2 linked regions of the Homo sapiens genome follow. The protein of the gene in region 1 interacts with the protein of each later gene in a biochemical or structural test. Each region holds a gene or a part of one and is shown in the gene's direction. Other genes may lie near its edges. The genes, in order: MPDZ and OR2AG1.

Region 1 (7,306 bases):
TTTTTTTTTGAGGTGGAGTCTCAAGTCTCGCTCTGTCACCCAGGTGGAGTGCAGTGGCATGATCTTGGCTCACTGCAAGCTCCGCCTCCCAGGTTCACGCCATTCTTCTGCCTCAGCCTCCTGAGTAGCTGGGACTACAGGCGCCTGCCACCACGCCCAGCTATTTTTTTGTATTTTTAGTAGAGACAGGGTTTCACCATGTTAGCCAGGATGGTCTTGATCTCCTGACCTCGTGATCCACCCGCCTCGGCCTCCCAAAGTGGTGGGATTACAGTCGCTTTGTTTTTTAAACCCTCAGTTATTCAGCTTGTTTGTCCTATCAAAATTAGTGTGTTTCATGAGATAATTGCTCAATTCTCCATTTCTTTTTGGTACAAGTAGTCTCCATAGAAATCATGAGGTGATAAGGTAAACACTTGGTGTTGCTGCTGCTGATTATTTTTATTAGTTTGAATGTTTTATAAAAAGCCATTTTCCACAAGGGATTGGAGGTATCCTTGCTTATAGAAATTCCAAAAGGAAGATGCCTTTCAAAAAAGTCTTGAAGAGTAAAATGTATTCCTAAAGATGATTATAGCATTTTATTTAAACATTTCCATAAAACACCCCCCATGCCCACCCCCAGTGTTCCCTAGGCACAGTAACCTTGGAAGTTGGAAGAATCAAAGCTGGTCCATTCCATTCAGAGAGGAGGCCATCTCAAAGCAGCCAGGTGGGTAGCTGTGGAGTTCATCAGGGCGATGCAATCGGCATGCCAAGAGGACACATAGATGGCCCTGACTGTGGGTCTGTGTACAAGGTCTGGTCCCCTGGCAGCGTGGGATAGTGACTGAGGTGCAGAGTTTGAGACAGAGAAGAACAAGGAATCAGAATAGCCAGGTAAACAAGGTGTGGCTGTTGAGTAGTTTGTAAGTCATTCTAAGGAAATTGATTTCAAGCATTCTTTTTTGACATGATTCATTTTCCATAATCTCAAAAGGTAACTACCTAATTGTAAAGCCTACCAAGATAACAAATTTTTTATTATTTTATTTATTTTATTTATTTATTTATTTATTTTGAGACAGAGTCTCGCTCTGTCACCCAGGCTGGAGTGCAGTGGCACAATCTCAGCTCACTGCAACCTTCGCCTCCCGGGCGAAGTAGATTCTTCTGTCTCTACTTCCCGAGTAGCTGGGACTACAGGCGTGCACCACCATGCCTGGCTAATTTTTGTATTTTTATTAGAGATGGGGTTTCGCCATGTCAGCCAGGCTGGTCTCAAACGCCTGACCTCGTGATCCACCCGCCTCAGCCTCCCAAAGTGTTGGGATTACAGGCATGAGCCACCGTACCTGGCCCCAAGATAACATATTTTAAAAATATTTTATAGCAACATCAATCAATATTCAACTGAAAAGTCCCATATAAGTGAACTATAGATACTCAGCACCATGTATAAAAATATGATGTTAAATATTTCAAGACTCTTGACAAGACCTCTTGACCTTCTCCTCAGTGTTGTCTACTGATGATGGAAACCCATTTTCATCAGTCTGTCCTTAAAGACCCCATACTAACTTTCTAAATTACTACCATGAGTTTCCTATTAGCTGGCCCTAATTCTACAGTTTTTGTTTAAGTCCTAGTCTTCCTACAACATCAGTTTAAATTTAAAGAAGATTAGTTTGAATGAGATTATGACTATCCACTAAAATTTTAGGTAGATTGGAATCAATTTCATCTACCCTTTTAGCTTCAATTTATTTATGTCACTAGACACATTCTCTGTTTAAAAGAAAAAAAATCAGTAGGAACTGTGTTTAAATTGCTCATCAAATTATCAAATGCCACTGTTGCTTAACAGGTATCTGTCTCTAGATTAAATTCTGAAATAAGTGGTATTTAGGGAGTATGTTACTTGCAAAACCTTCTGAAATAATTGTTGTATATTTGTAGGTGAGTGAAGGCAGCCTGTCATCTTTCACTTTTCCACTCTCTGGATCCAGTACATCTGAGTCACTGGAAAGTAGCTCAAAGAAGAATGCATGTAAGATTGGTTCAGTATTTTAAACATGGTTTGAATTTGGCTGTCAACACTGATTTTTTTGTCTTGTTTACCTCTGAGCTTTCTTTTCCCCCAAATCATCCCATATCCAAATATAGGTACAAAAACACGTGTTAGCAAAAAGTCTGAACAACATGAAGTTCTGCCTATGGCAGCTTTTCCCATTTGATGTTTACCCTACAAGATACACTAAACATTATAATCAGGATTCTGTAATTTTTTTTTCTTACTAAGCAGATTGGTGTTTTTGATTTTATTCCTTTTCTGTGTTTAATGTAACACCAGTAAATCAGAAGATGCCATTAAGTGAAGCCTTCTTTTTCCATGAAGATTGCAAAAATTTGAGAAAATTAATGTGATCCTCCTGTGTTTTAATTACGTGAAATCATGCTGCAGAGGGATTTTTGGCTTGGTGCATTGGTTGAGAGTTGTTCAAATTGAAGAAACTAACAATATGGCAATCTCTGTTTGCAGTATGACTAATATTCTAGAAATTTAGGCACTTAAATTTGTGAATTTTTTTAATGCATCCATGACTTTATTCCTCTCAGCCGTGCACATGTGCCTTTCTATGCAAAACACATTCTGCCCTTGACTCATTCAAAGTGGATTACATAGTTATATAATCAACACTTAAAATGAGAAGGAAGAATGGGATGGTATACACGTTTTTCCAACTGGAAAAATAAATAGTTCTGTGTAAGACAGATCTAATCATGTGTACTAGCAGCTTTGAGCACCCCCTTAAAAAAAGAAACCTAGGTTATCATTTAGTCCCATCCAGCTTTAGATATTTTAACGAACATAAAAAGTGAATGAACATAAAATAACCCTATTTTATCTTTTTTGCCTTTACAGTGGCATCTGAAATACAGGGATTAAGAACAGTCGAAATGAAAAAGGTAACTTGGGGAGAGAAAACAATATAAACCCTGGCGTTTTAAGAGACATCTTCATATGTGTTTTCTTGTTAACTTTCTTACGGTTTTAAAGTATTCATCTCAAAAAGTATGTATTCTTACATATTACATGTGAAATAACATAATGTAGTCCTTAATGAATTTCCTGATCACAGCACCTCATTTGAAAAATCGTTGTTTGCATGCTCTGTTTTGCTGAAAATAGCATAAAATTGACCCCACACAAAATAATACCATGCCTCTCACTTCTTATAAGTAAACCTTTCTCTTCAACAGATACTTATTAGTTCTGAAACAGATTCCCTTGACAGCCATGCACAAGAGACAAAGTAAAAGCAGCTGTGATTTATTGAGCTTTTACTATTGTTCTGAGCACTCTTATAGACACTTCATGTCATCATCATGTCATTTAATATTCACTGCAGCCCTCTGTGAGAGGCACTGTTGTCTCCATTTTGTAAATGAAGATCTAATGATTTATTGAGTGGAGTGGACTTATTCCAAGTTCCAGCATTTGCAAGTATGACTTCGTGGCTTTGAACACAGGACTCTGATTCCAAAAGTGTGGTCTTTTCACTTCATGAGTTTACCTGCTTTTCATCAGTTCCACAACATGATTTTCATTTAGCATGTCTTGATTTATTTTACTTCCTGAACAGATGCTTATTTTCCTAAGCCACGCTAAGCACCTGTGTCAAGTAAAGTAATGCAGTTTTCTTGCACTTCTTCATTTTCCCCCTCACACTTAGAAAATCAGAGTTGACTATAGATATCATGCCAAAGAATAAACAAAAGGTCAATGAAAAATATCACTTTGACCAAAATTTTATATCTGTTCCATGGCAGGGCCCTACTGACTCACTGGGAATCAGCATCGCTGGAGGAGTAGGCAGCCCACTTGGTGATGTGCCTATATTTATTGCAATGATGCACCCAACTGGAGTTGCAGCACAGACCCAAAAACTCAGAGTGAGTCGTACTATCAACCCTAGAAGCCCTAGCAAAATGTGCAGAAGTGTTTTTATAAACCTTTGAACCTGGCTACCTGTTGCAAGGCAGTTTTAAATATCTATATTTACTTTTAAATCATCTAATCCAACCACAGCAAGGCTTGCTTGGAATAAAAGATAAAGAATATTAAAAGAAAGGAGAAAATGCAGATTTGCAGTTAAATAGGAAGATTTATAGTTGTTTCCTAATACATATTTTTATATGTTGAAATTCTGTGGAACAAGCTAAAAGAGAACAGAAAGTATTTTCAGAACACCAGTATGAAGTGAAATTTTTATCTTATATATTTGATTGGTTTAAACGCCGATTTAACTCTGTTAAATTGAAAAGTATTACTTATTTGCATTCACTGATAATTTTGCAGAAGTTTAATATAAATATGACTTACAATGTTATAAAACTATATGCAACTTGCCTCAAAGCTGAGGGATTATCCAAATTGTGGAGCATTGCAATGGAATTTATGCCAACTGCCCAGCTCTAAAAATTACATGAATATTCCATTAACGCAACTCAGTCTCTCTAAAGCAAAATCTCTATGGTTTCATACCTCAAATAGGTCTCAGAACATAACCACATTTTAGTTTAAATAGTCTTTAGGCTGGGAATGGTTCAGCCTCGTTTGATATCCAAATTTATGGCTGACACTTAAAACCTGATTGTATACATAGCACAGGGTCAGTAAACTTCTGGAAGGACAGATACTGAATATTTTAGGCTTTGTGGGACCTGTGAGTCTCTGTTGCAACTACTCAACTCTGCGCTGTGAAAGCAGCCAAATAAGCATGGCTGTCTTCCAACCAGACTTTATTAACCAAAACAGGCAGTGGGCCAAATTTGGCCTCTGGGCCTTAGTTTGCCAACCTCCGACTTAGAGTCACATCTAATGATTATAATAGTAATGTCCAGAGAAATTTCAGTTTCCAAATGATAGTGAATTTTTTTTTCTTTTAATAGGAAGTAATGTCTCACCCAAGAGAAATGAAGAGCAGGGAAGAGTGACTTTCTCCTTCTCCCTCCCTCTCCCCTGGATATGGAACTCAACCATTATGCACTGCTTCTTTTTGTGGTTGCTGCTTTTTGGACTTCTTGGAATTAGTGGTTTCCTTGGTTATATTTCAGTGGCTGGTAGCAGTATATATGTCATGTGGAAGGTGGAGAAGGAAATGAATACTTAGGTCTCAAAGACCCACTCTCCATGGCTGCTTTAGCAGATGGCTGTTTCTTTCTCTCCCTTGCAGGTTGGGGATAGGATTGTCACCATCTGTGGCACATCCACTGAGGGCATGACTCACACCCAAGCAGTTAACCTACTGAAAAATGCATCTGGCTCCATTGAAATGCAGGTAAGATTTTTATCCCAAGCATAATTCAGAATATAGGTAGCCTGAAGACACATGAGCTTTGATGTTAAAGCAGTAAAAATGATTAAATCTTCTGCTATTATTTTATTTAATATTTCTCTTGAACATAAATGATTAAATTAAGAGTTCCAATAAAGTGCATATGAGACATATTTTGTAACATTTTACTCTGATGCATTGATTGTTTTATACTTTAAGGGGAAAAAAATCCAGGCCTTAGCAGTACATGATTATTTGCTGGAATTTTAAGTGGTGCTAGCAAGTGGCTTATATTCTAAAGATCTTTAAAAAGTAATTACATATGAGACCACATTTTAAAAACATCAAAGAACTTTGTAGAATAGAATTAGAAGAATATGTTTACTGTCAGGACAGTTAAGAGCCTCTGGACCTTGTGAAATTTCATTCTCTTTGGTTGTATTTTATGTTAACAGAAATGTTTAAATGAACAATAAAATATACATTTTAATCCAAGTGCTCTTTCTGAAGAAAAATTACTTTCCCTAGCCACAGGAACATGTGTTTTTTCTGTTTATCCTCCTCCTGTGCGCAGGTGGTTGCTGGAGGAGACGTGAGTGTGGTCACAGGTCATCAGCAGGAGCCTGCAAGTTCCAGTCTTTCTTTCACTGGGCTGACGTCAAGCAGTATATTTCAGGATGATTTAGGGTGAGTTCATACATGATGATTAGTGTATCATTTTTCACTTATGAATCAAGTCTTCCTGACAGTTGCGTTCTCTGTCCCATGTTTCTAGGAATTACGTACAGGTAAAATGATAGGATATATGAAGTGTGAATTATACATATCAGGTGCTTCTAAACTTAAATAATTGTGGCATGGATTTAGCTGATCAAAGATAAGTAGAGATAGATAACTAGCTAGATAGATATGCGTGCTACTACCCTTCCCATGGTTTCAGCTCTGATTTTGGGGCGGAGGACATTTTAGTCTTGATGTTACCACTTCATGTAATATGGAGCAAGTCAAATCTATCATTTTAAAATTTCCCGCACTGCCTATTCATCTAATATATTATCATTTGGACTGAAAAAATTCACAGTATTAAGTAACAATACTTGGATACAAAAGCATTGGAAAACAGAGGAGAAGAGAGAGGCGCATTAGAAATTTTAAATAATTTGATGCAGCTTTTCCATTGCTTATAATTGATTTTTCTCTCTGAGCTTGGGCGTACTGATGTTTATGACTTATTCTAATATAGTCCCCTGAACTTTAGCCCTCTCACTTTAAATAAACTGGAAAAAGAATGAGCTTCTCTGTACAATGAGAACATGCCATGAATATGTTAGTTTAAGGGAACTGTAAATGAGTAATAGAATTAGGGTGTTAAGTAGGATTTCATTAGATTATGTAAATTTAAAATACCAAGCACAGCATGCACTGACAATTTAAGCATCTCAAAAATACCCGTAATATACTCCTTGTCAGTAACAAAGAGAATTATGCTAGCTCTAGGTGGATGTCAGATAATTCATAACATATATGTATAGTTTTTTTTTTTTAATTTAAAACCTCTTTTTCCTTTCCTTCACCGTAGACCTCCTCAATGTAAGTCTATTACACTAGAGCGAGGACCAGATGGCTTAGGCTTCAGTATAGTTGGAGGATATGGCAGCCCTCATGGAGACTTACCCATTTATGTTAAAACAGTGTTTGCAAAGGTAAGCTTGCAAATTTTAACCACCCTCTTTTCCCCTAAACATTCATTAATAGTGGTCAGCAGCTGGCTTATTAGTTTATGGCCTGAGGTAATGCCAAATGGTTAACAGTTGATCATTTCTTTTCAAAACTCCCTACAGGAACAGGTCATTAAATATTTTTGTCCAATTTGAGGTTTCATTATATTTAAAGGAAAATAGGCTCAAATTGAAACTCCATGGAAACTCAACAATATACATAAAAATATTAATGAACTTTGGTTAGTAAAGCCTATTTTTTTTTCT
Region 2 (4,376 bases), on another chromosome or scaffold:
GTTAAAAATCTGTTTAATACTCTTCATATGAAAAGACAAATTGTTTTCTTAAAATGTTAAATATTTTGCATTCTTACCAGCAACATATAAGTGTACTTAGCCCACTACATATTTTTTCATGTTAAATTTTACATATAAGTAGTCTTCACTAATTGATAAGGTATAAAATTTGCCTATTTTAATTTGCTTAAGTAACTTGTCCACAGTTTTCTTATTGATTTGTTGAAGTTTTTTTACAGGTTAGGAACACGGAGACTTTGTTATATTTGTGGTAATAACTTCTTTTCAATTTGTTATTTGGCTTCTAATATCTGCATGGCAGAGATTTTTAGAAAGAGAAATATTTAAAATATTTGTATAGTGAAGGATATCTTTTATTTTTTTTTCCAGTGATTTTTACTGTTAGGATATAATTTTCTATTCTCATTGACGTCTTTGCTGTGCATCATACAGTTCAATTTAGGTAACAATTTATATATTTTATGTGTTTTGTCACTCTATATGTTTAACTTTAACAATAAATGTCAAACTTATCTTTACATGTGAAAATGATGATATTTCAACTTTTGTCAAAGGTACCATTTTTCTAGCAATATTTTAAAGTAATCCTTTCATTTTCTATTATTTTACTACCTTCATCAGACATGTTCTAGTAAGCTATATTTTGGCTAACTCTTCAGTTCTAGCTTCTTTCTCCTCTTTACTCTTTTGGAAGACATTTGATTCTATCATTCACATCTTAATAGCTCACTTGTAATTTGATTGTGAATATATTTAACTGATAAATTAATTTGTAATTTGAGCATTTTTTACAATACTCAGCCTTGCCTTCCTGAACATGGTGCATGACTATACTTCTGGAACCTAGTCTCAGTCAGTTTTAAAATGAACATTCCACACCATCATTCTAAGCTGATGCCTTGCCTCACACTTCACTAGAACAGAAGCAGTTGGCTACAAAGCCCTCTTCAAATCCTCCACATATCTGTGCCTGCGTGTACACTTCCTGTTTTCCCTCATTATAACTGCTTGAACCCGGGAGGCAGAGACTGCAGTGAGCCGAGATTGCACCACTGCACTCCAGCCTGGGCAACAGAGTGAGATTCTGTCACAAAATAAATAAATAAATAAATAAATAAATAAATAAATAAATAAATAAAGTAAGAAGTCTTTGCATGACTCCAATCCCCCTCAGTAACTGTAGCATTATTTTCAGCTTCTCTTCACAGGAAAAAAAAAAAATACAAAGGGAACACTTATGCCCATTTTCTCCTCTGCTGATCTTCTATTCGCATCTTAACACACTTTCAATCAAGCTCTGGTCTCTTTCTATGGACCTGTTCTTTGTGAAAATTATCATTAATGTGCTAAATAAAATGTCTACCTCCATATTCTCCTTCATCAACCTTTCAGCAACATTGATATAATTGACCTCACCCTTCTGTTGGGAAATTTTTCTTCTTTTGGCTTCCAGACACCACACAACTCTGGCTTGCTTCTTTAATCCCTAACCTTTTTTGCCTTATTGGATTCGTTTTTCTTTCTGAATGTTTCCACATTCAGATGATACAAACATGGACTTCCCTGTCTTCTCAATCAAGAATCTCTTCCTGAGTAATTTCATCCACTTACATAGATTTAAGTTCTGTCCATATGCTTTTGAGTCCCAAAGACCTCACTACTTGTATAATCCACAGACTCAAAAAATTAGCCGGGTGTGATGGTGGATGCCTGTAATTCCAGCTACACAGGAGGCTGAGGCAGGAGAATCGCTTGAACCTGGGAGGAGGAGGTTGCAGTGAGGCAAGATCGCGCCATTGCACTCCAGCTTGGGCAACAAGAGCGAAACCCCATCTCAGAAAACAAACAAACAAACAAACAAAAAAACAAAAAACAACGAGATATCACGTCTTGCCTGTTAGTATTATTTTTGAAAACCAAAAAAGTCAAAGCAAAACAAGTGTTGGTAGGTATGGGGAGAAAATGGAACCTGTGTACACAATTCATGGGAATGTAAAATGGTACAGCCATTATGGAAAACAGTATGGAGGTCTAAAGATTCAAACTATTACTACTGTATGATCCAAGATTCCCACTTCTGACTATATATCCAAAGGTAATTAAATCGCTGTTTCCAAGACATATTTGCACTCCATGTTTATTGCAGCATGATTCACAATAGACAAAATATTGGAAACAACCTAAGAGTCTATCAACAGACCAATGGATAAAGAAAATGTGGTCTATTTATACAATAGAATATTATTTACCCTTAAAAGGGAAGGACACTCTGTCATTTGCAATGAAATAGACCAACCTGGAGGACATTATGCTATGTGGAATAAGCCCAACACAGAAATACAAATGCTGTCTAATTTTGCTTAATGCGGAAGCTAGAAAAGAGTCTAACTCAGTAATAGAGAGTACAGTGGTGTTTGCCAAGGGTTTGGGGTGACTGTGGGAGGAAATGAAAAATATTAGTCAACAGATACAAACTTTTATTTTTAAGATGAATAATTTCTGAGGTTCCAACATATAGCATGGTGACTGAAGTTAATAAAAATGTGTACTTGAAATTTGCTGCAGAAGTAGATGTCACGTGTTCTCACAACACACACGCACAGAGGGTAAGTATGTAAGGTGATTGATATGTTGCTCTGTTAATTAGCTTGCATGTGGTCATCATTTCACAGGGTATACGTATATCAAATCATCACACTGTATACCTTAAATACATTCTAGTCATATTTGTCAACCATATCTCAATAAAGTTGGAAAAAAAAGAAAACTATGGGCAAATTATACATAATAATAAACATAAAAAATCATTTGAAAACATTTCTAAAGCTGCTTTGTCTTCATTATAGGAATGTAAAATATTACCTCTGCTGGAATATGAACTACACCCAGGATTTGAATAGTACAAATTAGATGAGACGACTTGCAGTGTAGAGCCCTCTAGGCTTTCAGCCTAGAACAGGAAGGAACGCAGAGTAATGACAGCAAACAGTGAAGCTATAGGATAATAATTCCTCCTCAGTGACAAGAGGCCCCACCACTGCTTTGGACTCCAGGAAGCACTCAGACATTAACATCTGTGAAGTGTGCCCTGCATGCTAAGAAAAGGGTGAACTGACAGACCCTTCTGTCCATCAAGTCATCCACAGCCTAGTTATTTCTGTCTCTGCTGCTAATTGTGCCAAAAGTAACCATAAAATCTGGAGTCAACTGCTAGAAGTTTTGCAAGAACAAAGGCCAAGGAGATGCACTTGTGTCTTGGTGAGTAGCCAAAGTTAGCTGCAGGGAGCTGAAGCAAGGGACTGAAAAAATGAGAAGTCTTAGAAAATGTTCTCCAGTCCTTGAGGATCTGAAGGCCTATGTGTGACTGATATTTGGTGGAGAAGAACGGACCTAGCTCTTTCCCCACTCCAACCAACCAAAATCTTTGTTGAAAGGCATATTGTGTATTGTCACTAATTCTGGGAAGGCGGGGGCCATTGGTTTTCATGAAGTGTGACTATGAAACATGAAAATCACACAAGGCAATCTTGATCTGAGGAATGCTTCTAAGAGAAAATGAATACACCTGCCCTATAGGCCCGCTTCTCTACCAAGCACACGGAGATGTCCACTTATTCTTGCTGGCACCAAATGGTGATATTCAAAAGAGCTGGCATAATTTTTTAGAGTTGCTAAGTATATAAAGCACTAACTTTATCAATTTTGTTAATTATACTTCACTTCATCTCTGTCTTATCAATTAGCTAAATAAAAACAGCATCAATTCATGAATATCATGATAATAAAAAAATTCAGGTAAATATTCAAAAAAGTCAAGTGTTAGCTGTACATATTATTGTAACTATAAAGGAAGGGAAAATATATCTTTATTTTATGAAAGCCAGTAAAATAAATCAAACTTCTCTTAAAATATTTGGTAAGGAAAAACTAACAACGTGTTTCTTTTTAAAATAAACTTCTAAATTTTGGAACAATATTAGGCTTACAGAAAAATTGCAAAGATGCTAAAGAGAGTTTTTCACACACCCATCTCTCAGTTTGTTTCTTCTAATATATTCATCCTTCATTAGCATACATACTTGTCAAAATAAGAAACCAAAATTGATACATCACTGTTAAACTATTCAGATTTTGCCATTTTATTCAGATTTTATTATCTTTTCTGTTAGTATTACTTTATGTTCCAGGGTCCAATCCAATATACCGTACTCCATATAGGTATCTTGTCTCTTTGACAAGCTTTGATCTGATATTTCTCAGTCTTTACTTGTTCATAACTGTAAGGGTTTTTTAATGAAGGGAAATAGGGTTTACAGAGCTGCAGAACAATTGTTATTTTTAAAATGCTGTTTATC

Evidence for each region.
Region 2: the proteins of MPDZ (region 1) and OR2AG1 form a complex in vitro, tested with the Homo sapiens proteins (one study listed by IntAct).

What each region holds. Positions count from the first base shown.
Region 1 is NC_000009.12:13,108,654-13,115,959, reverse strand, and holds part of MPDZ (multiple PDZ domain protein), read left to right. Parts: intron 1-625; coding exon 626-712; intron 713-1,938; coding exon 1,939-2,029; intron 2,030-2,905; coding exon 2,906-2,949; intron 2,950-3,813; coding exon 3,814-3,936; intron 3,937-5,219; coding exon 5,220-5,324; intron 5,325-5,895; coding exon 5,896-6,008; intron 6,009-6,900; coding exon 6,901-7,024; intron 7,025-7,306. UniProt on the Homo sapiens protein: Member of the NMDAR signaling complex that may play a role in control of AMPAR potentiation and synaptic plasticity in excitatory synapses. Promotes clustering of HT2RC at the cell surface.
Region 2 is NC_000011.10:6,787,795-6,792,170, forward strand, and holds the end of OR2AG1 (olfactory receptor 2AG1), read left to right. Parts: 3' UTR 1-3,764; downstream 3,765-4,376. UniProt on the Homo sapiens protein: Odorant receptor.